7 linked regions of the Homo sapiens genome follow. The protein of the gene in region 1 binds, or shares a complex with, the protein of each later gene. Each region holds a gene or a part of one and is shown on either strand. Other genes may lie near its edges. The genes, in order: SNRNP200, PPIL2, PPIH, SNIP1, PRPF3, LSM7 and LSM4.

The links.
Region 2: SNRNP200 (region 1) and PPIL2 share a complex: the UniProt entries of both Homo sapiens proteins name them as parts of the minor spliceosome.
Region 3: SNRNP200 (region 1) and PPIH share a complex: the UniProt entries of both Homo sapiens proteins name them as parts of the U4/U6-U5 tri-snRNP complex.
Region 4: SNRNP200 (region 1) and SNIP1 share a complex: the UniProt entries of both Homo sapiens proteins name them as parts of the minor spliceosome.
Region 5: SNRNP200 (region 1) and PRPF3 share a complex: the UniProt entries of both Homo sapiens proteins name them as parts of the U4/U6-U5 tri-snRNP complex.
Region 6: SNRNP200 (region 1) and LSM7 share a complex: the UniProt entries of both Homo sapiens proteins name them as parts of the U4/U6-U5 tri-snRNP complex.
Region 7: SNRNP200 (region 1) and LSM4 share a complex: the UniProt entries of both Homo sapiens proteins name them as parts of the U4/U6-U5 tri-snRNP complex.

Annotation. Positions count from the first base shown.
Region 1 is NC_000002.12:96,277,450-96,281,930, forward strand, and holds part of SNRNP200 (U5 small nuclear ribonucleoprotein 200 kDa helicase), read right to left. Parts: intron 4,474-4,481; coding exon 4,365-4,473; intron 2,111-4,364; coding exon 2,002-2,110; intron 1,550-2,001; coding exon 1,360-1,549; intron 1,263-1,359; coding exon 1,098-1,262; intron 910-1,097; coding exon 788-909; intron 502-787; coding exon 358-501; intron 267-357; coding exon 90-266; intron 1-89. UniProt on the Homo sapiens protein: Catalyzes the ATP-dependent unwinding of U4/U6 RNA duplices, an essential step in the assembly of a catalytically active spliceosome. Plays a role in pre-mRNA splicing as a core component of precatalytic, catalytic and postcatalytic spliceosomal complexes.
Region 2 is NC_000022.11:21,682,579-21,687,059, reverse strand, and holds part of PPIL2 (RING-type E3 ubiquitin-protein ligase PPIL2), read right to left. Parts: intron 3,879-4,481; coding exon 3,803-3,878; intron 2,308-3,802; coding exon 2,147-2,307; intron 578-2,146; coding exon 502-577; intron 169-501; coding exon 62-168; intron 1-61. UniProt on the Homo sapiens protein: Has a ubiquitin-protein ligase activity acting as an E3 ubiquitin protein ligase or as an ubiquitin-ubiquitin ligase promoting elongation of ubiquitin chains on substrates.
Region 3 is NC_000001.11:42,664,425-42,668,905, reverse strand, and holds part of PPIH (peptidyl-prolyl cis-trans isomerase H), read right to left. Parts: intron 4,044-4,481; coding exon 3,951-4,043; intron 2,927-3,950; coding exon 2,839-2,926; intron 2,360-2,838; coding exon 2,319-2,359; intron 1,556-2,318; coding exon 1,487-1,555; 3' UTR 1,466-1,486; intron 860-1,465; exon of another isoform or gene 755-859; intron 1-754. UniProt on the Homo sapiens protein: PPIase that catalyzes the cis-trans isomerization of proline imidic peptide bonds in oligopeptides and may therefore assist protein folding. Participates in pre-mRNA splicing.
Region 4 is NC_000001.11:37,547,510-37,551,990, forward strand, and holds part of SNIP1 (smad nuclear-interacting protein 1), read right to left. Parts: intron 1-4,481. UniProt on the Homo sapiens protein: Required for pre-mRNA splicing as component of the spliceosome. As a component of the minor spliceosome, involved in the splicing of U12-type introns in pre-mRNAs. Down-regulates NF-kappa-B signaling by competing with RELA for CREBBP/EP300 binding.
Region 5 is NC_000001.11:150,334,640-150,339,120, reverse strand, and holds part of PRPF3 (U4/U6 small nuclear ribonucleoprotein Prp3), read right to left. Parts: intron 4,187-4,481; coding exon 3,880-4,186; intron 962-3,879; coding exon 795-961; intron 1-794. UniProt on the Homo sapiens protein: Plays a role in pre-mRNA splicing as component of the U4/U6-U5 tri-snRNP complex that is involved in spliceosome assembly, and as component of the precatalytic spliceosome (spliceosome B complex).
Region 6 is NC_000019.10:2,320,571-2,323,834, forward strand, and holds the end of LSM7 (U6 snRNA-associated Sm-like protein LSm7), read right to left. Parts: intron 1,253-3,264; coding exon 1,110-1,252; 3' UTR 951-1,109; downstream 1-950. UniProt on the Homo sapiens protein: Plays a role in pre-mRNA splicing as component of the U4/U6-U5 tri-snRNP complex that is involved in spliceosome assembly, and as component of the precatalytic spliceosome (spliceosome B complex).
Region 7 is NC_000019.10:18,305,792-18,310,272, forward strand, and holds the end of LSM4 (U6 snRNA-associated Sm-like protein LSm4), read right to left. Parts: intron 4,071-4,481; coding exon 3,887-4,070; intron 1,765-3,886; coding exon 1,673-1,764; 3' UTR 445-1,672; downstream 1-444. UniProt on the Homo sapiens protein: Plays a role in pre-mRNA splicing as component of the U4/U6-U5 tri-snRNP complex that is involved in spliceosome assembly, and as component of the precatalytic spliceosome (spliceosome B complex).

The sequences.
Region 1 (4,481 bases):
CTGAGACTCACCTCCCGCAACCCACGCTCGGTCCACAACACTGGGCTCTCAGGCTCACCCACCTGACCCTCTAGGCTGACCCGGCTCACCTTGTCTGTGCAACGTTTGATATGCTCAGAGGTGAAGTGTGGCAGCTGCTTCAGGTATGAGTCCTTGGACCACATGGCTTGGGTGACCATCTGGGCCAGTTCCATAGCTGCCAGAGCAGGGCTGAGCCACCCATTGCTGGAAAGGACATCCACGCAGGCCTGGATGAGCCGGATTGCCTGAACAGGAAAAGGAGTATAAAAGTGGGCGGAGTTGGAGCTGAGATGTTTAGAGCACCACTGACCCCTCTGCCCCACACCCACACTCTACCTTACTAAGGATTTCCTCCGTATCTGACTGCAACTCAGCACTCAGCTGCATGCGAGACAAGTGAGCCTGCAGGAGCAGGTTGGTCTTGACGTGCGGATCATTGAACTTAGGGTTATTCAGCTTGTGGGGGACCTTCTGAGCCAACTACAAAGTGGAAGAAAAATAGCTGGTGATGAACAGGTGACCCTGCCTGAGACCAGCTCAGGCCAAAGCACCACGTGGCCCAGGCTCACACAGCCCTTCAACACCCTGAGGCATGTGGGTGGTAATGGGATGGAGATGGGTTTGAGGGAGGTATGGAGCGGGAGGACATATGGCGGGGGTCGGGGGATGCGTATGGGCGTGTTGGTGGCAGGGATGCCATGTGCTCTGGGCACACAGGCCGAGTTTGTTGTTCCCAGGATGCTCTCCTGAAGTCTGCTGTCCTCACCTGCCTCAGGAGATTGTCTTCATGGTGCCGGATGGGAATGTTCTCATACTCTGCTGCATTGGAGATGATCTCGATAAGCCCTCGCACCTTGGTCTTGGCATTGAGGGACATGCTGAAGAGCTCTGACAGAAAAAGGAAATGTGAGAGAAGCTAAAACCAGGCAGAGAAGGAGCAGAACTGCCCGGGCTCCCCTGCTGTCCCCTGCAGTGTCATCCCGCTGACAAACACGGGCGCACCTCTCATCCCAGTGGGCTCCTGACCCGTGTAAAAAGGCTCCCACAGACAGGACACGGGCCATGCCGGGCCTCACCAATGGTGGTGTAGTTGATGTAATAGTAGGCGGCGATCATGCCTAGGTTCAGAGGCGCCACGTCCATCTCGTCCTCGATGCTGATGCACTTGGACTGCTCCAGGTCACTCAGGGTCTGCTCCACCAGCTCTGACAAGTGGTCCGACAAGTGACGATGGGAGATGCCTATGGAGGCGAGAGGTGAGTGGGGAGCCTCAAGAAGATGCCCAGCAAAGACTGTGAGAACCACCAAAGGATCACGTGTGCTCCCAAGCCCACTGACCCTGCAGGTTGTAGTAATTGGGGTTCTGTGTCATGCGGCGGTACAGAAAGGTCCAGGTGAGGTAGTCCACAGCATCCTGCTTGTTCTCAATGGTCTTGGTGACGATCTCAGCATTGAAGTGGTCATGCATACAGTGGTCCAGGTGAGATTCTACTGGCAATGGCTCATATAAGAACTTCTTGAAGAAATCCTGTGGGTTGGAGAGGGAGAAGGAGTAATAAAGAATTAGTGACAACACGGTCACAGAGGGCCAAGGGCAAATCAACAGGGCATGGTCCCTGTGTGAGACCTAACTAATACCAAAATGGAAGAAGCCACACATTTAGAAAGTGCATCACTGGTGACAATACGCAGTGGGAACAGAGGTACAGCAAGTCACGAGGGCAGAGCAGTGAGCAGCCCAAGGAGGAAGGAGAGAACCAAGTAGAGGGTGAAGACCTCAACACGTGGAGCCAACGGCAGCAGCAAAAGCAAAAGGCAGCAAAATTCCATGTGGGTGGCAGGCTCGTCACAAAAGAATTGTGTAAATAAGAGAGGCAGAAGTTAAGAGACTAAAGTTACTGAAGACATCTATCAAAAGAAAGATTAAAGAATCCATTCTGAGGCTACGGATCCAAGAGGCTCCATGAGTCTAGGACTGACCTTCTTGGAGCCCTGACACATGATGACACAGCGCCCCTCATCGTCCTGCAAAGGGCGGTTGGCGTGGCCCACCATCTGAAGCACGTCATAGATGGGGTAATCCACATAGCTGGTGACAGAAGCAGGGAAAGAAGGAAAAGCCACCTCAACACGGAGACCATGCTCAGGAAGCCCAACTCCCTTCGCCAAGTAAGAGTAAAATGTTAATACGGGGAGACACGGACAAATCACGGGACGACTCTGTTTATGAATCTCTGCACTTACAACTAGCTTCACTGGCTGGCCTGTATAACATTTTAGTATTCAGTGTAAGGGCCATGAATTTGCTGCTCAAGTGCCATGAACCAAGCTACAAAACTATCTAATGCCAAAACCAAAATAACTCCCTATTCGAGGATCAAATATGTAAGTCAAACTTCCCAAACTTTTCTCCTTTAATTAAAAAAAATTATTATTGTTTTTATTTGTTTTTTGATACAGGGTCTTGCTCTGCTGTCCATACTGGAGTGCAGTGGCACAGCCACGGCTCACTGCAGCCTTTACCTCCTAGGCTCAAGTGATCCTCTCACTTTAGCCTCCAGAGCAGGTGGGACTACAGGTGCATACCACCACACTTTCCAAACTTCATAGTTGTGTATTTCGTGAGTCATCAAGTCACCCAACTTTAACCCTACCTAGAAGCAGGTTCAAACATTAAAAATGAACCCGTAAATAAAATTCATTTCAAACTAATCTGCATTTCAGGAAAAAGTTATTAAGCGTTGGGCCAGGCACTATAACTCACACCTGTAATCCCAGCACTTTGGGAGGCTGAGGTGGGTGGATCACTTGAGCTCAGGAATTCAAGACCAGCCTGGGCAACATGGTGAAAACCCATCTATACAAAAAAAAGGAAAAATTAGCTGGGAGTGGTGGCACATGCTGGTAGTCCCAGCTACTTGGGAGACTGAGGCAGGATGATTGCTTGAGCCTGGCAGGCAGAGGCTGTAGTGGGCTGAGATCATACCACCGCATTCCAGCCTAAACGACAGAACAAGATTGTCTTAAAAAAAAAACAACAACAAATTATGCAGGCTTTTTTATGAGAATGACTGACTCTTCTAACTTCTTTTTTTTTGAGATGGAGTCTCGCTCTGTTGCTCAGGCTGGAGTGCAGTGGTGCTATCTCGGCTCACTGCAACCTCCGCCTCCTGGGTTCCAGCGATTCTCCTGCCTCAGCCTCCCAGGTAGCTGGGATTACAGGCGCGTGCCACCACACCAGGCTAATTTTTGTATATTTAGTAGAAACAGGGTTTCACCACATTGGCCAGACTGGTCTCGAACTCCTGACCTTGTGATCCACCCGCCTTGGCCTCCCAAAGTGCTGGGATTACAGGCATGAGCCACCACACCTGGCCCTTTTTTTTTTTTTTTTTTTTTTGAGACGGGGTACCACTCTGTTGCCCAGACTGGAGTGCAATGGCGCGATCTTGGCTCACTGCAACCTCTGCCTCCTGGGTTCAAGTGATTCTCCAACCTCAGCCTCCCAAGTGGCTTGAATTACAGGTGAGTGGCTTGAATAACAGGCACCTGCCATCAAACCTGGCTAATTTTTGTAGAGACGGGGTTTTGTCATGTTGGCCAGGCTGGTCTTGAACTCCTGACATCAGGTGATCTGCCCACCTTGCCCTCCCAAAGTGCTGGGATTACAGGTGTGAGCCACCACACCCAGGCTTTTTTTTTTTTTTTTTTTTTGAGTTGGAGTCTCACTCTGTTGCCCAGGCTAGAGTGCAATGGTGGGATCTCAGCTCACTGTAGCCTCTGCCTCCCAGGTTTAACTGATTCTCCTGCCTCAGCTTCCCAAGTAGCTGGGATTACAGGCGCCTGCCACCACACTCAGCTAATTTTTGTTATTTTTAGTAGAGACGGGGGTTTCACTATGTTAGCCACACTGGTCTTGAACTCCTGACCTCAAGTGATCCGCCCGCCTCAGCCTCCCAAAGTGCTGGGATTACAGGCATGAGCCACTGCGCTCGGCACTCCTCTAGCTTCTTACTTGTCACTATATAGGTGTATGACCTCGACCAAGTCACTTTTCCTAATCTACAAGATGTCTGAGATTAATGACGTAACGTCAAACATTCCTCCTGGCTCTAATTTCCTACCTCTCCCAGCTGCTGAATAAGGAAGCACAATGACTAAAAAGCAAATGTGAGCCTAGGTATTGAGACACAAAACTCTCAAACACTTGGCTCTGGTGGCATCTCAGCTGTTAACTTCCCTAACACCTTTTCTTCATCCTAGCTTACTTTCTGTGTATCTGCAGATTCACATTCATTTTAGGAAGGAGGTCTGTGCTAACACAGAGCACCAGTTGTACTCACGCGTGGATCTTGCCATTGTAGTACTGGGTATCCATGATGATTACCAGGTGGGCAGCCACGTTCATGCCCCAGCAGAGACTCCGAGAAGCCACCACCACCTGGATAGCCCCTGAGCAG
Region 2 (4,481 bases), on another chromosome or scaffold:
GGCTGTCAGATGACCCAGAGATGACCTTGGGGCATGGGGAGTGGCTGGCCTCCACACCCACCAGGTCGCAGTGCAGCTCCAGGTTGAGGTCGCCCTTGTTGGTGTGCAGCCGCACGTAGCCCTTCTTCTTCACAAACTGGTAGCGCAGCACATCCTCGTCGATGGCAGCTACAAGCCAAGGTCCCAGCTCAGCCCCTGCCCTCACCCTGGGGCAGCCCCACCATGCCAGGCAGCACCGACCTCAGACACACAGGCGGGGACTAGGCTCCAGCTCTGGGGAGAGCAGGGGAGCTGGAGGCCGAGGGTCTGCTTAGGCCACGCACAGGCTCACCCCAGCCTCATGGGGCTGGCAGGGGTTCAGCAGCTAAGAGGGGGAGGACTAGGGGCTCAGGTGACAGTGGGAGCCCCTGACAGACCAATAAAGTGGGAGTCGGGGAGCACACCCACCCCCTGCCACTTTTGGGTCACATGGCAGGTGGCTACAGAGGCCAAGGTGGCTACCTGCTTCATGTGTGGTCTCCGGGACCATCGCGGTGGAGGTGAAGGAAGCGCTGACCTTCCCTGTGGAATAGTGGGCCTGCCAAGGAAACCAGGGTGGCACCTCAGCAGTGCCATGGGAGGCAGTTGGGTGGGGACGTGTCGCTTGCCTAGAAGCCAACCACACGCCACCCCTGCCCCCCAGGCCCTGCTTGGTGCCTCTCCTCCAGGAGGGCCTCCCCAACCAGCAGGAGGAAGAAGCCAAGGCTAGGCCAAGCCAGGGTCCCCTGGCCTCCACTGGATCCCGACTCTTATGATATCAGGTGAAACCCTGGAGATAAAATACCACACAGGACTGGCCACCTCAGGGTTAGGAGTGTATGGCTGACTTCTCATTTATTTTTATTTTAATTTTTTTATGAGACAAGGTCTTGCTCTGTACCCAGGCTGGAGTGCAGTGGTGTGTGATCCTGGTGCACTGCAGCCTCCAACTCCTGGGCTCAAGTGACCCTCCGACCTCAGCCTCCTGAGTAGCTGGGACGACAGGCGCATGCCACCACGCCTGGCTGATTTTTTGTAGAGATAAGGTCTCACTATGTTGTCTAACCTAGTCTTGATCTCCTGGCCTCAAGCAATCCTCCTGCCTCAGCCTCCCAAAATGCTGGGATTACAGGTGTGAGCCACCACGCCTGGCCTCATTTCTTTTTAAAAGTTTCAAACTTTCTACACTAAACACATTACATATTTAATCAGGGGTCGGGGAAAAGCCCCAATAAATGTTATTTTTTATCATAGAGGAAGAAAAAGGGGTTTCTCCCATCAGAAGAAAATACAAGCCAGGCACAGTGGCTCACACCTGTAATTCCAGCACTTTCGGAGGCCAAGGCAGGAGGCTCTCACTTGAAGCCAGGAATTCAAGACCAGCTTAGACAACATAGCAAGATCCTGTTTCCAAAAGAAAAAAAAAAGTAATATATCAAAGTGCTAAGGGCAGTGTGTTAGACGGAGTGACACACTGGACAACAAGCTTTCTTTTTCAAATTTTCCAGAATTTGAATAATTCTTTAAGAAGGAGAACTTCAGAGCTACCTGCCCATGTCTCTGCCCTCCCCCTAGCTCCAGATCCCCATGCTCTGCCTGACAGGAGGAAGAAGCAAACACGACAGCCCCAGACAGGTGGCACCGTGCAGTCCCAGGCATGCCATCCACGTCAGCACCGCAGCAGACCATGAAACGCCCCAACTCTCCCTGGCATGGCTTTGGGCCCCAGTGCACATCGGGCCCTGCCCTCCCAGCCACCACAGAACCACATGTGCCCGCTCAACGTGCCTGCCCTGGCTACTGAGCTCAGGCTGGGACCACAGCACAAGGCAGACCTTCTGTGGCAGGGATCTCCCCTACATGCCCCCACACACCCCTTGGTTCTTCAACGACCAGTGTGGACATCAGCCCCTCCCCTTCTGCCTTCTCAGATTCTATCTGCCTCAGGGCAGCCCCAGGGCTGTGCACTCAGAGCCATCAGGGGCACCACAGCTCTGGGGGATCCTGGCTGCCTCCCTGCCGTGTATCCCAGGCCCCCATGAGCCCCTTTCCCAGGACCACTCCAAGAGGCCATGAGATGGGCAGGAAGACGGGGCTTGGGCTTGGCCGAGTGCCCTCCGCCACTCACAGCGTTCAGCTTGTCCACTTTCTTCTTCTCCGGGGCCTTCATGGTGGCTGCCAGAATCTCGTCCCCTTTGAACTCCTTGTAGAGCTCCTGCAGGGTCTCTCGGGTCTCGGCATTTGTATTTTTCAGATAATAAGACGGGTCCTGTTTGGCCTTCTCTTCATCTACAAAACAGTAGCATGGCCCTGAGCCGCCGAGCCCCCAGTAGCCTCCCCACACACGTGCTGGGGACACAGATCTAGAATAGCCCAGGGCCGTCCAGCCATGGCGCAGGCACCGTGCCACTGCCAGCCACAGAATGCCACAGTGCCCCGCTACAGGCCTGAAGGTCTCCCCAGGCAGTTCACAAGGGTCTCAGGATGGACTTCAGGTTGATTTGTATATTTTATATTTATCTGTATATTCTAATCTTTTTAGAGTATACGCTTTGCTTTTTTTTTCTTTTTTTTTTTTTTTTTTTTTGTGGAGATGGAGTCTCGCTCTATCGTCCAGGCTGGAGTGCAGTGGTGCAATCTCGGCTCACTGCAAGTTCTGCCTCCCAGGTTCACGCCATTCTCCTGCCTCAGCCTCCTGAGTAGCTGGGACTACAGGCGCCCGCCACCACGCCCGGCTAATTTTTTTGTGTTACAATCTTGTAACCTCGTGATCCGCCTGCCTCAGCCTCCCAAAGTGCTGGGATTACAGGCGTGACCCACCGCGCCCAGCCTTTTGAGACAGGGTCTAGCTCTGTCGCCCCAGCTAGAAAGCGGTTGCAAGATCTCAGCTCACTGTAGCCTCCACCTCCTGGGCTCAATCGATTCTCCTGCCTCAGCCCCCCAAGTAGCTGGGGCTACAGGCGCACCAACTACACCCAGCTAATTTTTCTATTTTTTGTAGAGACAGGGTGTCCCCATGTTGCCCAGGCTGGTCTCGAACTCTTGAGCTCAAGCAATCCGCCTGCCTTGGCCTCCCAAAGTGCTGGGGTTACAGGCATAAGCCACCACACCCAGTTGCTTTGCTTCTGTAATTTTAAAGGTTATTTTTATTTAAAATAATAGAAGTGTTTGGGGGTCTTTCCAGATGTGAAATCACCCATTCTTGCCGACTCAGGAGGGTGCCTGCTGCCTACTGGGCCTTGGACAGCAGCCCACCCTGTGGAGAGGGGCCGGCATCCCTGTGCAGAGAGCACAGACACGGCCCAGCCCCAACCCTGACCTCAGGCTCTCCTGACTCAAATCTTCCCCAGTTCACGTGCTCAGCCTACCTAAAACCCGTTCAAACAATGCTCACAAAGTGCCCAGGCCACTGCTCTGCAGCACAAGGCCGAGTGACCTCTGAACATGAGTCCTGCTGGCTCCTCCAAGGCTGCAGGACAGCCACCAGAGGCCAGGGAAACAGGAGGACCCCATCACCCCACCACCTGCCCACTGACAGCACCGGCCAGTCTGCAGGGAGCAGGGGAACCTGAGCAGGTGTGCTGGCAGGGCAGCAAGTCTATCCCGCCCATTGTTTCTGAGGCTGCAGTTGGCTCAGATTCTCTGAACACTAGTTCAGAAAATGCAGGGCCTGTCTGGGCTGGGACCCCCTGACCTCCAGGAAAGCGGGGGCTTTACCCAGGGAGCACTGTCCCAATTTCATCCAAAAGCCCCCTCGCCTAGCCCAGCCCCTAGGTGTACATACCTGGGTCTATTATTTTCATGTTATTCTTCACATGATAGAAGTTAGAGACATTGAACTTGTCCAAATTGGTGGGGTCCTGTGGCAAAAAGAGAATGCCCAGCAGAGTGAACCCAGCCTACGGCCAAATGGCAGCCACATGCAGCAAAGGACGGCCAGCTGTCAGAGGTGTGGAAGAGGCCAGGGCTACACTGAGGTTGGGGGAGTCAAGCAGGGCATGAGGGAGGAGGTGGTCTGCCCCAGGCAGGGCAGCAAACAGGGGCAGGGGCAGGGACGGGGACGCAGCCTCGCTAGCTGCTGGCTGAGCTGTGACCTTCCTCCAGGCACATGGCTAACGAGCATTCATTGCTGTTAGGGAGCTATCGGACCGGAACGTGGGCAGCCGTGGGCCGACCTCTGGTTAGAATGGGACAAGCCACAGAGGTGATTGACTCAGCAGGCCACGCTCCAGCCAGCACCTGCTTTTCTAAGTCAGTGTTTTTCATTAATTCACTTGGGGTTCTCTGACACCTGCAGGGACCCTGTGCCAGATACAGGGTCTTTGCAGAGCTCATGCCAGCTCCTGCCCTCGAGGCGCTGAAGCAGAGCCAGGCCTGCAGAGTGGCTATTCAGATGCCTCAGGTGGCTTTGAGGACAGATATGAGGGGCCCTGACGTGGGGGTAGGGCCCTGTAGAGGCCTGG
Region 3 (4,481 bases), on another chromosome or scaffold:
GGTGGTTTTACATGAACTAAGAAGGAAAAGTTTTCAAGACATATTTTTTAGAACATGAAAAATATAGTATGATTTCATTTGGGAAAAAGAAAACCTCCCAAAATTAGATGGGCAAGGCAAAGGCCCTGATGGACATACATCAAACTAATAAGGAAGTGACCTTTGGAAAGGGGAGTGGAATTGCAGGTGGGTATTGTCAAGAGGGGCTTTCACTTTATCTGTTTGGTGTGAAAGTTTTCACAATGAGAGTGTATTATGTTACTTGTGTAAACCAAATGAAATGAAATATGGGAACCTTGATTGGATCACCTTTTTTTAAGCTACAAAAGTTACTTTTGGGACAATTGGGGAGGTTTGAAAATGTACTATATATTAGATAATATTGTGGTTACGTAGGATGTTCTTATTTTTAGGAGTTCCTTGCTGAAATACTTAGGGGTAAAGTGTCAAGAAGTCTGCAACTTTCAAATGGGAAAGAGAAGAAGAAAGGGTAAAGGAAGGAAGATGGGAAGAAAGGAAGGAAAGGATGGAGGGAGGGAAGAGGAGCAGGAGGGAGGAGGAGAGGCAATGGAAATGGGTGAGGAGGCAAGAAGGGAAAGAAAAAAACAAATGTCAAGGCAAAGCAATAAAACAAGAATGTTAATCATTGGTGAATCTAAGTGAAGATATATTGGTGTTCAAGGTATTATCTTCTAACTTTTTTGCAGGTTTGAAAATAAAAAAAAAAGAAAAACAAAACATCACTACCCCTCACCTGGCTGGAAGTGATGGATTTCTCCCTTGTACTCTTCTCATACTTGGCAATGTCACTCATATTACTAGTGATCACCTCTGGGAATGTCTTACTTTCCATGAGCTCCTGAAAGGAGACATCTTTCAATTCTTTGTCCCCCTCTCTGCAGCTAGCATGCTGCCCAGCGCAGAGCAGGCAGTGGTAATTACGGGTAAGAAATGAGTCCATGTAGGCTGGAAGATGCAAGGCATTCACCTATGAGGCCAGCGAATATGAAGTCGAGGCCTGGAATTGCAGTATCAGTTCTGATGAGAGGCATGACAGGTGTGTCTCCTGGCTGCCTGGCCTGGTCCCAGCAGAGAGTTACTCAGGCCTGGAGCCAGGTCTTTCTAGGGGGACTACTGAATGGAACTGTAGTCTGAGAGTGCTGTTACAAACTGCCTGAGTAGTTTTCACATTGATACTTTGTACATTACAAAGTGATAGAAAAGTAAAGTGCTCCTACAACCCTTTCTCTTTTTATTTTTACAGTGACTCTGAGAGATAGGTATTACAGTATTTCCATTTGACAGATGAGGAAATGTGCTCAGAGAAGGAAAGTGACTACTCCAAGGCCATACACGGAGGAACTGGGCTCAATCTCATGTCTTCAAGACTAAAGTTCTTTCCACTAGACCATGCTGCCTTCTCTGAGGTCTGATTCCTAACCTAATAGGAGAAAGACACACTTACCTGATTCAGTCTTTGTCTGGACTACATCTCCCCACACTGCGAGATCACCACAGGTAGCTTGGGCTTATTGTTGGGGCCTGTGGGAACATTCTAGGAAAAAAAGCACAATGGAGATTCATCCACTCAGGCACTTCCTCGTTCCCTTATCAAACTTTTACTGATGCCTGCCAGCCCTGTGCTAAGGACTCAGCACTCAGAAACAGTCCATGTCCTGGCAGACAGGTAAAGCATATAATACCTATCAAAGAGAAAATGCAAAACACTTAGAAAATATCAAACTTATGATTATATAAGAAAAAGTTATAAGAGAGAATTGGATAAGGGTTAGATAGGCAACTAAATTGGGGCTTAAAGAGGTCAGGGAAGGATTCACAAAAGAGGGGTATTTGAACTGTGCCTAGAAGGATGAATGGGATTCCATCAGGAGGGAAGGAAAGAAGAGCATTCCGGCTAGAGGAAACTGTGTGAGCAAAGGCTCAGGGGCAGGAAAGAGCAAGCAGCAGGGACATGCATGGCAGATTTAGAGAAGAGCTAGTAGCCTGATGTGACTGGAACATGGAAGAGGCAATGGCAGAAGAAGGGGCCATGGAGAGGTAGACAGGGACTAATCATGAAGGACCTTGAACGCAATGCTGAGGAGTAGAATTTTATCAAGTAGGCAACAGGATCATCAGAGGCCAAACCTCAGTGTTGGCCAGACAGGCTAACTTAGGTGGTTCTCTTCCCTTTTCCTGGGGCAATGAAGACAGCCTAACAAACTGGAGCTCATTCCCCCTTCTCTAGCTCCTGCACGCTAGTCAGACAGTACCAGACCACAATGGCAGAGAAACAGAAAAATCAAAGCAGTACTTACCTCAATCTTTCTCATCACTAGAAGTCCATCGATGATTTTTCCTGTAGGAAGAGCATGAGCTGGACTTTATTCTTGTTTACATAGCATTTTCCAGCTTCCAAAGCCCATTCTTAGCTATTTTCTCATTAAACCCTCATACTAACTTTAGGAAATTAAGATGCGGTAGAGGTGAAATGACTTGCTCAAGGTCATAGGTAATAAGTAGAGTTAGGGCTCAAACTTATACCTGAGTGACTCCAAAGTCTCACCGTATCATGCTGCCTCTATGGCATTTCTTTGGTGCTAGCAACTGGGTTTTCTCCCTAAGTGGTTCCATACTATATCAAATGGTCCTTTTGTCCTTCCCTCTAGTTCTCTAGCCACACATGTTCCCCACCTCCCCACCATTTCTGTTTTCTCTATTACCACCTAAGCAGTTACACAGGTTGAGCTTTCTTGGTAAGAGTTTGAGAACTAACTCCTCTGGAGGTTCCATCCAGGGTGAATGGGGCCTGGACCATGAGACAGGAGTAGGACTTACCAAACACCACATGCTTCCCATCCAGCCAATCGCACTTAGAGCAGGTGATAAAGAACTGACAGCCATTTGTACTTGGACCACTGTTCGCCTGATGGAAACCAAATATACCTGCAGTAAGTTTCCCCGGCCATGTTAGCTGAAGGGCAAGATTTCCAAAAGAGCTTGTAACACTGATTCCTCTATGGTTTTTTTCAGTAAATCTAACTTAGCACCTATTATGAGCCAGGGCCTAAGCTAGGATCCAAGGATACAGAGATGAACAGGATATGGCTCACTGCAGCCTCAAACTCCTGGGCTCAAGCAATCCTCCCCACCTCAGCCTCCCTAGTAGATGGGACTACAGGTGTGTGTCACCACACCTGGCTAATTTTTTTTTTCTTTTTTAAGTAGAGACTAAGTCTCACTATGTTGCCCAGATTGTTCAAACTCCTGACCTCAACCTCAAGCAATCCTCTTGCTTCGGCCTCCCCAAAGTGCTGGGATTACAGGTGTGAGCCACCACACCCAGCTATGAATATGTCTTGAAAGCACAACTGTTTACATTCTGAGCAGTAGGGCTGAATGCCCAGACACAAATCCTGGTTCAGATTTTAGTTCCCCAGCCTGCTAGCCTGCTAGTGGGCCTTACCTACTGGTTTTCTTTTCTTTCTTTTCTTTGTTTTAAGATGGAGTTTCGCTCTTGTTGCCCAGGCTGGAGTGCAGTGGGGCAATCTCAGCTCACTGCAACTTCCCCGTCCTGGGTTCAAGCGATTCTCCTGCCTCAGCCTCCCGAGTAGATGGGATTACAGGCACCCACCACCACACCTGGCTAATTTTTTGTATTTTTAGTAGAGATGGGGTTTCACCATGTTGGCCAGGCTGGTCTCGAACTGCTGACCTCAGGTTATCCACCTGCCTCAGCCTCCCAAAGTGCTGGGATTACAGGCGTGAGCCAGCATACCTACTGGTTTTCTCAGTCAAACCAGACTAAGAAAGGAGGTGGTAAAGGTGAGTCCTGGGCCAAGCAAGAGAAGGAAAGCATTTGCTTCCATCCCAAGAGACAGCACTGGGCCTCAAGAGGGGCCCAGGAACCAGCTGGCTATAACCCAAAACCTTGATTGGACCTCACTTACCATGGAAAGCAGGCCTGGAGCTGAGTGTCTAAGTTTAAAATTTTCATCTGCAAATGGCCCCCGGTAAATACTGGCGACTCCAGTACCATCTCCCTGAGCAGAGAGAAGGGAAGTATTAGTGACTTGGAGTGTTGGGTCCCTGGAAACCGGAGGAAGAACACTGTCGCACCTAAAGCATGACATCTTTAAAGTCTACTCTTACTCTTGTTGGTCATCTTGGAAGCTGCACCTATTTGACCCCACCCTGCAATCAGATCAAGCCTTATATAAGGTACCTACAGCCCACAAAGACTGGCTGGAGCATTTTATAGACTGGATAAAAGAGGTCACAGCTGGGCCTCTAGAACGATCAATTAAGATGCAGACAAAGTAGGGAACAGCAACAAGGTGATCACATACTCAATCCTTGCCATTCCTGAAGACTCTCATGCCTTCAGTCACATAAAAGTACCCACTTAAGTGACTACCACCCCATTCCCCTAAACTATCTAAGAGGGTGGGTGAGCTCTTGGCAGTCTGTATGTACAACAT
Region 4 (4,481 bases), on another chromosome or scaffold:
GATCACTTGAGGTCAGGAGTTTGAGACCAGCCTGGCCAACATGGTGAAACCCCGTCTCTACTAAAAATACAAAAATTAGCCGGGCATGGTGGCACGTGCCTGTAATCCTAGCTACTGGGGAGGTTGAGGCACGAGAATCGCTTGAACCCAGGAGGCAAAGATTGCAGTGAGCCAAGATCACACTACTGCACTCTAGCCTGGGCAACAGAGCAACACTTCACCAAACAAACAACAACAACAACCAAAAAAAAACACAAAATGGTGGTTCAGAGGTTGAGAAAAGAATAAAGTAATCATTTGGTATCCTCAGGAGATTGGTTCCAGGATCCCCAGTGGATAAAAAAGATTATCTCAGGGCCAGGTGCAGTGACTCATGCCTGTAATCCCAGCACTTTGGGAGGCCAAGGCAGGTGGATTACGAGGTCAGGAGATGGAGACCATCCTGGCTAACATAGTGAAACCCTGTCTCTACTAAAAAAAAAATACAAAAAAATTAGCCAGGCATGGTGGCGGGCGCCTGTAGTCCCAGCTACTCAGGAGGCTGAGGCAGGAGAATGGCGTGAACCCCGGGAGGCGGAGCTTGCAGTAAGCCGAGATCGCACCACTGCACTCCAGCCTGGGCAACGCAGCGAGACTCCATATCAAAAAAAAAAAAAAAAAAAAAAAGATATCTTAGGATGCTCAAGTTCCTTATATAAAAATCTGTGAATATCCTTCTGTATACTTTAAATCATCACTAGGTTATTTATAATACCTAATACAACGTAAATGCTATATAAATAGTTGTTATACTGTTATTTGTCTTTTAAAATTTGCTTTTTTTTTTAAAACAGTCTTGCTCTGTCACCCAGGCTGGAGTGCAGTGGTGCGATCTTGGCTCACTGTAATCCCCGCCTCCCAGGTTCAAGTGATTCTCCTGCCTCAGCCTCCCAAGTAGCTGGGATTACACGCGCCCACCACCACACCCAGCTAATTTTTGTATTTTTAGTAGAGACGAAGTTTCACCATGTTGGCCAGGCTGGTCTCCTGACCTCAGGTGATCCACCCGCCTCGGCCTCCCAAAGTGCTGGGATTACAGGCATGAGCCACTGTGATCGGCCCAGACTCTAATCCCAGTTACTTGGGAGGCTGAGGCAGGAGAATCCCTTGAACCCAGGAGGCGGAGGCTGCAGTGAGCAGAGATTGCGCCACTCCAGCCTGGGCAACAGAACGAGACTCCGTCTCAAAAAAAAAAGAAAAAAAAAAAAAAAAGACGACTGAATTCTCATCCCTCAAAATTGAGAATAAGGCAAGAGTGTCTGCTCTCATTACTCTTTTATCTCTCCTTGCCTGACGCCATCCGTGTGATTTGCTCCTCCTTGCTTCCCACCATGATTGTGAGGCCTCTCCAGCCATGTGGAACTGTAAGTCCATTAAACCTCTTTCTTTTGTAAATCGCCGGGTCTCGGGTATGTCTTTATCAACAGCATGAAAACGGACTAATGCAAACAACAAAAGGAAATAAAATGCATTCAGATTGTAAAGGAAGAAATAAAACTGTCCCTATTTGTAGATATGATTGTCTACGTAGAAAATCCCAAGTAATCTTAAAAAAAAAAAAAAACTAGAATACATTAGTTCAGCAAGGATATAGGATGAAGATAAACACACAAAAATGAATTATATTTCTATATAGTAACAATGAACATTTGGACACTCATTTAAAATACCCTTTATAATCATTCCACAAAGAAATATGTATAGGATTTATAAGCTGAAAACTACAACCACTGATAAAAGATATCAAAGATGATCTAAATAAAAGGGGAGATACACAATGTTCATGGATTAGAAGATTTAACATAGTAAAAAGTCAATTATTGCCCCCAAACGCCAGTTTAACACAAATCCTATCAAAATCCTAGCAAGACTTTTCTTTCAGATCTCACTCTGTCGCCCAGGCTGGAGTGCAGTGGTATGATCACTGTTCACCGCAGCCTCAACCTCCTAGGCTCAAGTAATCCTCCCACTCAGGAGCTACTCAGCCTCCTGAGTAGCTGGGACCACAGGCATGCCACCACGCCCAACTAATTTTTGTATTTTTTGTACAGATGGGTTTCACCATGTTGCCCAGGCTGGTCTGGAGCTCCTGAGCTCAAGTGATCTGCCCACCTCAGCCTCCCAAAGTGTTGGGATTACAGGCATGAGTCGCTGTGACCGGCCCAGACTTTTTAAAAATAGAGGCAAGATTGTTCTAAAACTTACATGGATGAAAAAAGAAGCTGAATAGCTAAAGCAATTTTTATAAAGAAGACTACAATGGGAAAAATCAGTCCATACAATTTCAAGACTTATTATATAGCTATAGTAATCAAGACTGTGTGGTATTGGCAGAGTGACAGACACTGACAAATGAAACAGAACAGAGATTCCAGAAATAGACCCACACAAATATGCCCAACTGATTTTTGACAAAAGAGCAAAAGTAATTCATTGGAGGAAAGATGGTCTTTTCAACAAATGGTGTTGATGCAAGTGGACATTCATAGGCAAAAAAAACAAAAACAAAACAAAACAAAACAAAACAAAACAAAAACCCTGAAACCCTGAAAAGAAACTGAAAGCAGATCATGGACTTTTAAGAAAAAAAATTTAGGAGAAAATTTCAGAGATCTAGGGCTAGGCAAAAAGTTCTTAGCCATGACATCAAAAGCACAATCCATAAAAGGAAAAACAGATAAGCTGGACTTCATTGAAATTAAAAACTTTTGCTCTGAGATAAACCCTGTTAAGAAAATGAAGACAGCTACAGACTGGGAAAAAATATTTGTAAACCATTTATCCCCAAAGGGCTAGTATCCACAATATAAAAAGAATTCTTAAACACTAAACAGTAAAAAAGCAAATAATAGTATTAGAAAACAGGCAAAAGATAGCTGGGCATGGTGGCTCACTTTGCTGTAATCCCAGCACTTTGGGAGGCTGAGGCAGGTGAATCACCAGAGGTCAGGAGTTCAGGACCAGCCTGGTCAAAATGACGAAACCCCATCTCTACTAAAAATACAAAAATTAGCTGGGCATGGTGGCACGAGCCTGTAATCTCAGCTACTTGGGAGGCTGAGGCAGGAGAATCCCTTGAACCTGGGAGGCTGAGGTTGCAATGAGCTGAGATCGCGCCATTACACTCCAGCCTGGGCAACAAGAGTGAAACTCCGTCTCAAAAAATAAAAAATAAAAAATAAAAAATAAACAGGCAAAAGACATGAGACATTGCACCTGAGAAGATACATATAGATGGCAAATAAGCACATGAAAAGACGTCCAAGGCCAGGTGCAGTGGCTCACGCTTGTAATCCCAGCACTTCGGGAGGCCGAGGCAGGCAGATCACGAGGTCAGAAGTTTGAGACCAGCCTGGCCAACATAGTGAAACCCTTTCTGTACTAAAAATACAAAAAATTAGCTGGGCGTGGTGGTGGGCATCTGTAATCCCAGCTACTCAGGAGGCTGAGGCAGGAGAATCACTTGAACCTGGGAAGGGGAGATTGCAGTGAGCCAAGATCACGCCATTGCACTCCAGCCTGGGTGACACACACACACACACACACACACACACACACTGACACACAAAGAAAAGATGTCCAATATCATAAGCCATTAGGAAAATGCAAATTACGGGAAGCTGAGGCAGGAGAATCGTTTGAACTCAGAAGGCGGAGGTCGCAGTGAGCCGAGATCGTGCCACTGCACTCCAGCCTGGGTGACAGAGCCAGACTCTGTCTCAAAAAAAAAAAAAAAAGGAAAACGCAAATTAAAATCACAATGAAATACCACTACACGCCTATCAGAATGGCTAAAATAAAGTGATAACTTGAAATGCTGATAAAGATACAGGGAAACCGGATCATTCATACATTGCTGGTGGGAATATAAAATGATACAGCCACTATTACGGACTAAATTGTACCCTCCAAAATTAGCATGTTAAAGTACCAAACCCAAGTACCTCAGAATGTATTAATAACTTTTTGGAGATGAGGTCTTTAAAGAGCTGGTTAAGTTAAAATGAGGGTAGGGCCCTAATCCAATATGGCTGAGAAAAGACAACAGGACAGAAGAAAGATCATTTGAGGATATAGCAAAGAGGTAGCCATCTGCAATCCAAGGACAGAGGATTTTTTTTCAGGAGATTCCAAACCTGCTAACACCCTAATTTTTGACTTTTAGCCCCATAACTACAAGAAAATGAATTTCTGTTGTTTAAGCCACCTACTCTATGGTATTTCATTATGGTGGCCCTAGGTAAACTAATACAGCCACTCTGGAAAACAGTCTGGCAATTTCTTAAAAGAATTAAACCTGCAACTACCGTACAATCCAGCAATTGTACTCCTGAGCATTTATCCCAGAGAAATGAACTCTTAACGTTCACATAAAAACCTGTACACAAATGTCTATATAGCAGCTTTATGTGTAATAGCCAAAAAATGGAAACAACCCAGAT
Region 5 (4,481 bases), on another chromosome or scaffold:
GTGCTGGAATAACAGGTGTCAGCCACCGAGCCCAGCCTTATATGCTATATTTACTATTATCTCACCTACCAACTAATAATCCTTGCTCTATCACAATGAGATCTTTAGGAAATGTAAACACCTATAATACGTAGCAAAAGAATGTAATTAAGGAAAATAATGCTAAAAACAGGCAACAATGTGTAACAGAGCAAAAAGAATTCTAGACTTTGCTTTTGTAGATTGTGTCCCTGGTTATCCTACATTAACCCCAAAAGCTAAAAACAGCCTATATATATGATACATCACTTACAAATGCAGGAGCTTGGCCAGGTGCAGTGGCTCACGCCTGTAATCCCAGCACTTTGGGAGGCTAAGGTGGGCGGATCACCTGAGGTCAGGAGTTCGAGACCAGCCTGGCCAACATGGCAAAACCCTGTCTCTATCAAAAATACAAAAAGCAGATGGGCATGGTGGCACACACCTGTAGTCCCAGCTACTTGAGGGGCTGAGATTCAAGGAGAATTCAAGGAGAATCTCTTGAACCCGGGAGGTGGAGGTTGCAGTGAGCTGAGATCGTGCCACTGCACTCCAGCCTGGGTGACAGAGCGAGACTCCCTCTCAAAAAAAAAAAAAAAAAAAATAACAGGACCTTGTGTACAGTTACTTATCTCTCTTGGATTTAAAAATTTTAATTAATGAATGAGTACCATCCTTCCCACTAAAACCATAGCTTTACTAAAAGGTATTAACTTGAGTCTTAAACTCAGCTGATTAAAAACTGTTTTTTTAAAAAGGTACTAAAACAAACTCACAGATCAAAGCCATTGGGGATTATGTAAGAGTCCCACCACTCAATTTCAGGAATATCTCCTTCCTTTAGCTCCTTCTTAGGAGCAATGAGGGCAAGCCTAGTCGAAGTATGGATGCCTGTTTTTCGAGCTGCTTGTGAAATCTCTGCCTGTAGCTTCTCCAGTTGAGCCTAAAAACAAGATAATCCAAGACAGAAAGATAAATTGGAGTCATAGAAAACAGAATGTGTAGAATCTCAATTTTTTTTTTTTTTTGAGACGGAGTTTCGTTCTTCTTGCCCAGGCTGGAGTGCAATGGCATGGTCTTGGCTAACAGCAACCTCTACCTTCCAGGTTTAAGCGATTCTCCTGCCTAAGCCTCCTCAGTAGCTGGGATTACAGGCATGTGCCACCACCCTCAGCTAATTTTGTATTTTTAGTAGAGATGGGGTTTCTCCACGTTGCTCAGCCTGGTCTCAAACTCCCGACCTCAGGTGATCTGCCCGCCTCGGCCTCCCAAAGTGATGGGATTACAGGCATGAGCCACTGTGCCCGGCCAGAATCCCAAATATTTTTTTTTTTTTTTGTAGACGGAGTCTCACTCTGTCACCCAGGCTGCAGTGCAGTGCAGTGTAAGCTCCACCTCCCGGGTTCACGCCATTCTCCTGACTCAGCCTCCCGAGTAGCTGGGACTACAGGCGCCCATCACCACGCCCGGCTCATTTTTTTGTATTTTTAGTAGAGAAGTGGTTTCACCATGTTAGCCAGGATGGTCTCGATCTCCTGACCTAGTGATTCGCCCACCTCGGCCAAGAATCCCAAATTTTAAAACACTTCCCCGTTGAACTCTTTACACCTAACGCAACAAGTTCATAATTTCTGAAAGCTTAGAAAGGAGTTGTTCTGCTTTATTTTATCCTTTATTTAGTTCATATACATAGATCTCACCTTCAACCCCTCCCTGCACTCCACAGTATATGCCTGCAGTAAATACGCAGAAATAGAATTTTATGGCCGGGTGTGGTGGCTCACGCCTGTAATCCCAGCACTTTGAGAGGCCGAGGCGGGAGGATCATGAGGTCAGGAGATCGAGACCATCCTGGCTAACACGGTGAAACCCCGTCTCTACTAAAAATACAAAAAAATTAGCCGGGCGTGGTGGCGGGCGCCTATAGTCCCAGCTACTCAGCAGGCTGAGGCAGGAGAATGGCATGAACCTGGAAGGCGGAGCTTTCAGTGAGCTGAGATCGTGCCACTGCACTGCAGCCTGGGTGACAGAGCGAGACTCCGTCTCAAAAAAAAAAAAAAAAGGAATTTTATGAAAACCTCACTTTGAGAGGATAAAAAGGCGGCAAAGGTCATTCAATATACAATCAATTCAACTCTCCAGGTGTACTGTCTCATTAAATTTTAACTACAGGCAAGCCTTCCTTAGTCACTCAGAATGTTTCAAATTGTTTCCCTCCACTTAGTTGTATGTGGAGAATTTTCAAACTCAATTTCATAATATTTCCACTTATGTAGAAACGAATTAGGAAGTAAAATCTGCTAAAAAAATTATGTATTATATTAATAAATATATATATATATTTTTTGAGACGGAGTTTCGCTCTTTTGCCCATGCTGGAGTGCAGTGGTGCGATCTCAGCTCACTGCAACCTCTGCCTTCCAGTTTCAAGTGATTCTCCTGACTCAGCCTCCCAAGTAGCTAGGATTACAGGCACCCACCACCACGCTCGGTTAATTTTTGTACTTTTAGTAGAGACGGGGTTTCACCATGTTGGGCAGGCTGGTCTTGAACTCCTGACCTCGTGATCCACCCACCTCGGCCTCCCAAAGCGCTGGGATTACAGGCTTGAGCCATCTTGTCCAGCACATTTTTCAAAGTATTCATTGCTTTAAATCAGGGGTCCCCAACCCAACAGTCTTTTAGGAACTGGGCTGCACAACAGGAGGTGAGCAGCAGGCAAGCCAACAGTCTCATCTGTACTTACGATTGCTCCCTATTACCTGCATTATGGCCTGAGCTCCACCTCCTGTCAGATCATCGGTGGCATGAGATTCTCAGAGGAGCGCGAACCCTATTGTGAACTGTACATGTGAGGGGGCTATGTTGCACATTCCTTATGAGAATCTAATGCCTGATGATCTGTCACTGTCTCCCATCACACCCAAATGGGACCATTTCAGCAGGAAAACAAGCTCAAGGCTCCCAGTGATTTTATATTATGGTGAGTTATATAATTATTTCATCATATATTACAATAAAATAATAATAGAAATAGGCCAGCACAGTGGCTCACGCCTATAATCCCAGCACTTTGGGAGGTCAAGGCAGGCAGATCACAAGGTCAGGAGTTTAAGACCAGCCGGGCCAACATAGTGAAACCCTGTCTCTACTAAAAATACAAAAAATTCGTCAGGCATGGCGGCGCATGCCTGCAGTCCCAGCTACTCAGGAGGCTGAGGCAGGAGAATTGCTTGAACCCAGGAGGCAGAGGTTGCAGTGAGCTGAGACTGTACCACTGCACTCCAGCCCAGGTAACAGTGCAAGACTCCATCCCCCTCCCCGCCCAAAAAAAAAAAAGGCGGGGGCGGTGGCTCACGCCTGTAATCCCAGCACTTTGGGAGGACAAAGTGGGCAGATCACCTGAGGTCAGGAGTTCGAGACCAGCCTGACCAACACGGAGAAACCCCGTCTCCACCAAAAATACAAAATTAGCCAGGCGTGGTGGCACATGCCTGTGATCCCAGCTACTCGGGAGGCTGAGGCAGGAGAATCACTTGAACCTGGGAGGCAAAGGTTGCAGCAAGCCGAGATCGCCCCATTGCACTCCAGCCTGGGCAACAAGAGCGACACTCCATCTCGAAAAAAATAATAATAATAAAGTACACAATAAATGCTATGTGCTTGAACCATCACGAAACCATCCTTACTCCAGGGGAAAAATTATCTTCCATGAAACAAGTCCCTGGTGCCAAAAAGGTTGAGGACTGCTGCTTTAAATGACCTATTTATCTAATTTCCTAGAACACAGAGATTTAACAATGTTTTCTTGTCAGCTTCTTAACTTTTTCCAAATTCTGTGTTATACTCTAAGCCAGATACCTTTGTCCGTAATCGCTGAGCAATCTTCTCAAATTTGCCCTTGTCATGGAATTTAAAAGTGCGTCTCTGGCGCTGGGAAGGGGCAATGGAGACTCGGGGGTCAAAAAAGGTATTGGATTCCATGTCTTCTGATGGCTTTTCCTTTAGTTGTTGCTTGAATTGTTCCCTCTTCACAGCACGAATATTGGCTTTCAGAGTAGGCATGCGGTGTGTCAGCTCAATCTCCTTGCCTGTTGCATCTACAGTGCGCCCTTGCTCATCCAGGATCAGTGGTGTAGGTTTCGTTTGGTCTTTTAACTCCACCTTCCTGAAAAATAGCCCGCAAAGAAATAAATCCTGTATGGAACATTAAGGCAAGCAAAAAACAAAATAAAGCCAGGCGTGGTGGCTCAAGCCTGGAACCACAGCATTTTGGGAGGCCAAGGCAGAGGGATCACTTGAGCCCAGGAGTTAAAGACCAGTCTGGCCAACACAAGGAGACTGCATCTCAACAAAAAATTTAAAATTAGCTGGGTGCGGTGGCATATACCTGTGGTCCCACCTACTCAGGAGGTTGAGGAGGATCACTTGAGCCCAGGAAGTTGAGGCTGCAGTGCCTTCTC
Region 6 (3,264 bases), on another chromosome or scaffold:
TGAGGCGGGTGGATTACCTTAGGTCAGGAGTTCGAAACCAGCCTGGCCAACATGGCAAAACCTCATCTCTACTAATACAGAAATTAGCTGGGCATGGTGGCGGGTGCCTGTAATCCCAGCTACTTGGGAGGCTGAGGCAGGAGAATCACTTGAACCAGGAAGGCGGAGTTTGCAGTGAGCCGAGATCACGCCACTGCACTCCAGTCTGAGTGAGAGTGAGGACTGTCTCAAAGGAAAAAATATATATATTTTTTGTAGAGACGAGGTCTCCCTATTTTCCCAGGCTGGTCTTGAACTCCGGGGCTCAAAGAGATCCTCCTACTTCACCCTCCCAAAGTGCTGGGATTCCAGGCGAGAGCCACTGCACCCGACCTCAGGACATGCTGTGAGCACGGAAGGAACCCAGAAGGGGCTGGCTGTAGGTGACCAGTCCATCTCACAAGCGGGGGCAGCAGCGGGGGCAGGTGTTAGCTGCATGGGCTGTGGGGTCTGGCCTCTTGATGCACCCCGGCTCCTGATGCACCCCAGCCTCCTGATGCACCCCGGCTCCTGATTCACCCCAGGTCCTGACACACCCAGCTCCTGACACACCCAGCCTCCTAATGCACCCCAGCCTCCTAATGCACCCCGGCTCCTGACGCACCCCGGCCTCCTGATGCACCCCGGCCTCCTGATATACCCCAGCCTCCTGATGCATCCCGGCTCCTGATGCACCCCAGCTCCTGCTGTCTTGGGGGCGGGCCTGGGGTTCCACAAGCCCCTCATCAGACTGAGGTTCCAAACTCGCCTGTCTCGGCCTTGGCTGTGCCCGCCTTGGTCACTCCTGAACCCTCACCCCCAGGAGGGACCATGGCTGGTATTTGATGAGCTCCAGGGACTGAGTCCAATCTCCAGGAATCCAGGTTTCCTCAGAAGGTCAAGGGAAAAGCAAGATTCGGGGCTCAGACACATTGAGGTTTGCAATTTTATTAAGAAAACAAAAATTCAACCTATACAAAAAGGAAAATGCTTCCGTTCCAGGAGGCGGTACTGCGGTGGGAGCAGCAGCCAAGTCCGCGGGAAACCGAGCTGCTCGGGCCTGCCCTGCACCCCCCGCGCCCCCGGCCAGGCTAGGCGTCCTGCTGCTGGATGAAGGGGTTGGGGATGGCCTCCATGCCGTCCTGCGGGCAGATTAGCACCACGGACGTGCCCCGGCACACCACGAGGCCCAGCTGCCGGGTGTCCTCCGTGAGCTTGTACTGGTCGTCAGGGTCTGGGGAGGAGCAGATAGAGAGGACTGAGGGACCTCCAGGAAGCCTCCGAGACCCCCCACCCACCCAAGACCCTCGCTCCGACCTCCCCACCTGCACCCTGCAGGCGCCACGAGCACGCAGGGACCTCAGACGGGATGCGCTCTGTGGGGCAGGTCCCCGGCTCCCACGGCTGAGACCCATGGCCCCTAGAGACCAGTGGCAGCTCCACAGACAGCAGCCACAGCCCTCCCTCACTCCACAAACCATGGGAACAAGAAGGCCCAGGTGATAGCCGGCTACCCCGCGTCTCAGAGCTCACTGGGGCCCAGGCACCAGGGCCGGGAACCAGGTTATCAGATGGCCGGCCAGAATACAGGCACCCTGGGCCTCCTGGTCTCTGCAAGGTCCCTGGAGCCCTAGGGGGCCAATATTCACCCTATAACAAAGAGGCTGGGGGCCGGGCGCGGTGGCTCACGCCTGTAATCCCAGCACTTTGGGAGGCCAAGGCAGGCGGATCACGAGGTCAGGAGATCGAGACCATCCTGGCTAACTTGGTGAAACCCCGTCTCTACTAAAAAATACAAAAAAATTAGCCGGGCGTGGTGGCAGGCACTTGGAGTCCCAGCTACTCGGGAGGCTGAGGCAGGAGAATGGTGTGAACCCAGGAGGCGGAGCTTGCAGTGAGCCGAGATCGCGCCACTGCACTCCAGCCTGGGTGACAGAGCGAGATTCCATCTCAAAAAATAAAAAAATAAAGAGGCTGTTCATGTGGGGTGGGGACCATGTGGGCTGGCACCCCAGGGAAGTGCCAGCAAGCCCAAGACAAGCTCTCAAGAGGCTGAAGGCGATTAAAACTCCTCACTACTGTGGTCCTGCAGTGGTGGGGGCATGGGAGAACCATGGGGCCCAGGTTTTTAAACTTTTTTTCAGACACCAGGTCTTGCTCTGTTGCTCAGGTTGGAGTGCAGCAGTGCAATCACAGCTCACAGCCTCAACCTCCTGGGCTCAAACAATCCTCCTGCCTTAGCCTCCTGAGTAGCTGGGGCCACAGGCACATGTACCGCCATGCCTGGCTAATTACATTTTTTTTTTTTTTGTAGAGACAGGGTCTCACTATGTTGCCCAGGCTGGTCTCAAATTCCTGGGCTCGAGTGATCCTCCTGTCTTGGCCTCCCAAAGTGCTGGGATTACAGGCATGAGCCACCATGGCCAGCTACAAGAATAAATCTTGTCTCAGTATCAATGGATCCAAGGGGCAAGACCCTCTCTCTCCTAAGTCCTGACATTCCCCCAGTGCCCGGGCCGGGATGGGGACTTGCCAGCTGGGGACTTGCCGCAGGAGCTTCTGGGGGAGAGTCTGAGGACTTGGCGGCCTCACTGGGGAGGGGAGCGAGCGGGGGCAGGGAAATGAGGGAGGGTCCTCTGGGGAGGAGACAGGGACCCTGCGTTCATAGCGGGAATTAACAAGGGCAGAAGAGGAAAGGCGCCCGAGAGGAGCCCCACGGCACGCTCACTACCCCACAGCAAGGCTGCTCTCCGCTGGGCGCCACAGCTCACGCCTGGAACCCCAGCACTGTGGGAGGCTGAAGCAGGAGGATGGCTTGAGCCCAGGAGTTCGAGACCAGCCCGGGCAACACAGTGAGACCTCAGCTTATCTCTTTTTTTTGAGACGGAGTCTCACTCTGTTACTCAGGCTGGAGTGCAGTTGCACCATCTCGGCTCACTGCAACCTCCGCCTCCCAGGTTCAAGCGATTCTCCTGCGTCAGCCTCCCGAGCAGCTGGGATTACAGGCATGCGCCACCACACCCAGCAATTTTTTTGCATTTTTAGCGGAGACGGGGTTTCACCATGTTGGTCAGGCTGGTCTCAAACTCCTGACCTCAAGAGATCCTCCTGCCTTGGCCTCCCAAAGCGCTGGGATTATAGGTGTGAGCCATTGTGCCTGGCCTCTCACGTCACCAATTTAACAAAAATTAAAATAATAAAACATTTAAAAAGGTTGTCCTCTAACTGTGCCGGGCGCCCCGTCAG
Region 7 (4,481 bases), on another chromosome or scaffold:
AGCTACTCAGGAGGCTAAGGCAAGAGAATCGCTTGAACACACGAGGCAGAGGTTGCAGTGAGCCAAGATTGTGCCACTGCACTCCAGCCTGGGCAACAGAGCGAGACTCCGTCTCAAAAAAAAAAAAAAAATGCTCTTGTCCAACAGGCAGGTGGGTGCCGTGGGCCGGTGCATCCCAAGGCTTCCAGGCCCGGGCCCCCAACTGCTGCCCCTGCCTGTGTTGAGGGGGCGGGTTTGTGAGGTTCAGGGCAGGCCACATCCTGGACCCCACATGCCCCATCTCTAACCATCAATCAAGTGCCGCTGTGGCGGAGAGGATTCAGGCGACTGCAGATATCCATCCCTGTCCCCCACCCCACACACAAGGAGAACATCCCAGGCGAGGACATTGTAAATGCAAAATCTATACGATGGCAAGTAACTCTGAAGACTCAAGAAAAAGAGTTCCTCACGGACGGGACCTTTTATTCCAATCACCTCTCAAAATAGGTCTCCGAACGAGGACCCTGAAGAGAAGGCTATGCAGGGGGACGGGCCGCTGCCTGGCTCAGGGCTTCCCTCTGGTTTCTTCACGGTCCACAGATGCTACCCGGAGCCTTTCTCGAAAGCGCTGACTCAGTGTCTCAGGTGCGCGCCCGAGGAGTGGCAAACCCGGCCTGGCTCAGAAAGGGGGCAGGAGCCTCGTGAGAATCTTCCATGAGCATCTTCCGAGGGGATTCCTGTCCTGTCTTCTCTGTGTGAACGCCAGTGTGGACAGATGAGGATAGATGATGGAGTCCAGGCCACCCAGGAGGGGGTGATGGGGACCATGCGTGGCCCCTGCCTGGGACTTCCCTCCCCACACACCCCTTGGCATTAACGTCTCCACAGAGGGGAGAGGGTTATAGGACAACCTGGTGTGGGGGGCGCCGGGGACTCTCAAGAGCCCCCACTGTCCAGATGCTGGTCTTGCCTTTTGTAAAAGGACATCAGTGCCTCACTGTGCCGCTGACACCTGGTGAGAACTCTCAAAAGGAAGCTTCCCTTACGGGAACGGGGATTTCCTGAGAGTCCAGCGATGGACAGAGGGCAGGAGACCCGCTAGGTGCACCCAGAAGCTCAAAAGGAACAGTGGATGTGCAGTGTGTAGTTTTATTTGTTTTTATTTCCATAACACAAGAGAGGAAGCGAAGGGCCAGGGCCCGAGGCATCCCCTGCACGGTTCGAAGGCTTTCAACCGTCCCGGGTTTGTTTTGAAGGCAATTTTGGGGCCGCGCCCAAGGAAACCCTGCAGGCTGTCAGTCCCAGCATGAACAGCTTAAAATAAAAATCTCCCGTCTGGTTGCTGCTCGGAGAGGCTCCAAGAAATGCAAAACAAACCCGCCTGGAAAATGCTGCCCTGAGAACCAGAGCGAGGGCTTGAAAGATGCCTTCAACACAGACTCTTCTAGGAATCCAGCCAGTTTTGGGACGGCCGTTTCACAAAACCAAAAAACACCAAGTAACATTTCTAACCGGAGAATTGCCGGTTTTAGCAAGAAAAAGGGGCTTCACCTAAAAGGGAGGGTCACAAAACACGAAGGGGGTTCCCCCTGGCGCCTGCCTCTTCCTTTCTGAGCAGATCCGTCCGAGACTGTGGAGCGGAATCGCCACCCTGGCAGGAGGGGGCGCAGCAGCCGGTCTGGGTGGGCGCTCACTGTTTGCCCGCCTGTCTGCCAGGCTTCTTCTCTGGCTGGCCTCTGCCTGTGCCCGGGATCCCACCTCGGCCCCGGCCACCAAACACACCTAGAGGACAGAGAGAGGGCGCTGCAGCAGAGCCAGGTGGGTGGGACCTTCGACAGGATCCCGGCGCCCTGAAACTCTAGGCCAGGTCACCTAAGTCTCCAGCCTCAGCTTCCTCATGTGTGAGGTGGTGACTGAGGGTGCTTGGATCTCCTCCGTGGGGCAGAGCATCTGAGGAAGGCAGGAACTCCAGGGCATCCTCATTATGGGACTAGACCCAGCCCCCAGGGATGCGGGGGGGGGGGACTAGGCGACAGAGGACACTAAGTCACATTGGGGGTTGGGGCAGGCTTCCTAAAGGACAAAGCCAGAAGGGTTTCCTGGAGGAGGAGGAGGAGGTAGGAGAGGCGTGGAGCAGAGACCAGGGCAGTAGGCCAGGCTGGGGGCTCCCTGGCGGGGGGGGGGCCTCCTATGCGCCACAACCACCCACAGCCCCTCATCTACCTGCCAGGAGGAAAACAGAAAGAGGGATTTCTGTGTATCCAGCCCCAGGGATGGGGAAGGGGAGGGGACTCCCCAGCAGGCCTGAGGCCAGAGATAGACCATGAGGACAAATGACATTTTCCATGAAGCCCCTGAGGTGGGAGCATGTGGCCACTGGGGAGGTGACAGGGGGTTCCCGGGAGATGAGGGCCCCAGGGACTGAGTGGACGCTACAGCGGCACCTCCAGTAATCCTGAGCAGGCTGCACGCAGGGCACGCCTGTCCCCACACCCTCTGTGTGCCTGGCGCCCCTTCACGCCACCCTCACCACAGGCCAGGCCTGGACGCAGCAGGTTGGTCAGGCCGGGACCCAACATTGATCCCTCCCTCTCTGTCTCCCTTGGGGACCCCAGCTCTGTAAGCCCCGTTTAGGGAGCCGTTTCAGAGAACTTTCTAGCTGGACGAACGCTTGAGGAAATCAAAGCTGGAGCTTCAAACAGCAGGAGAGCCAAGGCCAGCAAGAGGAGCTGGCCCTGTGGCCCATGTGCTGGGTGCCAGGGGCCAGAGGCCAGCGCTGCAGGCAGCATAGCTCAGGCCCTCCACAGAGCCCGCTGGGAGGCTCAGTCGTGGGCCAGGGAGGTCTGGGGACAGGAGGACTGACCCCAACAGGAACTGGAATCACGGTCTACTCTGCAGACCTCAACCCCGTGAAGGTGGGGTCAGGGGTCCAGATTCAGAGGATCTAAGAGGTCAGGGCTCTCACCAGCCAGGGGCCACCAGGCCCTGTGGGGACAGAGGCCAGAGGCCAACGCTGGCCTGGGCCACCAACCTCCCCTCTCACCAGGCAGGACCAGCTGTGCTAGGGTGCACAGCCTGGTGGGGGTTACTGCGAGGCTGCTATCTGCACTCCATGGCCCAGTGGCTTCCTGCAGAGCAGCCAGAGAAAACCCCCCACTTCCCTAGGTAGGACCCGACCCACTCTCTCAACAACCTTGACCCCAACTACTGGGAAGGAGCCAGGCCGGGGACCCCAGAGGCCCCACCCACCCTGAGATCCCCAAAGCTCCCTGCCTGGAGTACTATCCCTGCCCCTCCCTCGGGCTCACTCCTGACCACCTCGTGAGCCTGCACAGAATTGGCGCCTGGGGCCTTCCGGGGGCAGCCATGCCGTGCTGCAAGCCCCCAGGCTGGCACCTGAGCCCAGCACACAGGCAGTGCCCATGGATGGCAGAAGCAAAGCCCAGGTCCCCCCGAGAACACAGAGCTGGGGACAGAGAGGTGAGGAAGGGCAGGGGCTACAGATGGCCCCTGGGCCTAACAAATGGAATTTTATGCCAATTCATCATCTCCGGTGGGGGCGGGCGACCTTGGCTCTGGATAGAGCCACGCCAGGTTCCAAGTGGAGTTGCCAGCGGCCTGGACAGATGGGCACCACCATACCCTCTCAGAGGGGAAACTGAGGCTTGGGGAGGTGACTTGATGTGCCCTGAGGACCGCCAGGAGGCGCAGTGAGAGGAGGGCTGAGTCCCAGGTCTCGGGGCTCCTCTGCCTGGGCCTCGGCTCATGGCCAAGGACCAGGAGGGGGGCCCGGGAGGGTTGGGAGGCTCCGAGGCAGCGCTGCAAGGGCAACCCCAAGAAGGAGGGATGCCACGTGTGGCTGTCTTCCCGCCCCAGGTACGTCCACTGGAGAGGGGAGACCCACCTCGGCCAGCGCCGCCCATGCCGCGGCCTTTCTGCTGCTTCTGCTGCTGCAGGCCTCCGCGGCCGCGGCCCTTGGCCACCACCTCCTCCTTGACCATGTCGATGATCTCGTCGGGGATGCGCAGGTACTTGATGGTGCTGCCGCGGATGTAGCACTCGGGCATCCGCCAGAACTTGTCCCCGTCCTGCGGAGAAGGGGAGCAGGTTATTAACTTACCACCGGGCCGTCTGGCCCAGCCCTGGGAGCGCGGGAGGCCCTGCAGATCCTGCCCAGCCTGCACCCCGTACCACCCCTGCAAGCTGCACAGTATCAGTCCCGGGACATACGTGGCAAAGGGTCCACCCTGCAGGCAGGATCTGTCCTGACCCCAGGCAATCCTTCACCCAGGAGCAAGGGTGGGTGTGGTAGGCGCAGCCCCCATTGTGCACTCACAAGGAAGACTGGCTCCTATCCTCTGCCCGTGGGCCTGGCTCAGGAGTGGCTGACTGGGGCTCCCTCCAGCCTGGGATGGGGCTCTCTCTGGTTGGGGTTCTTCACCTGCAGCCCAAAGCCCAGAGCGGGTGGGGGCCTCCCTGTGCACCAGACACAGCCGAAG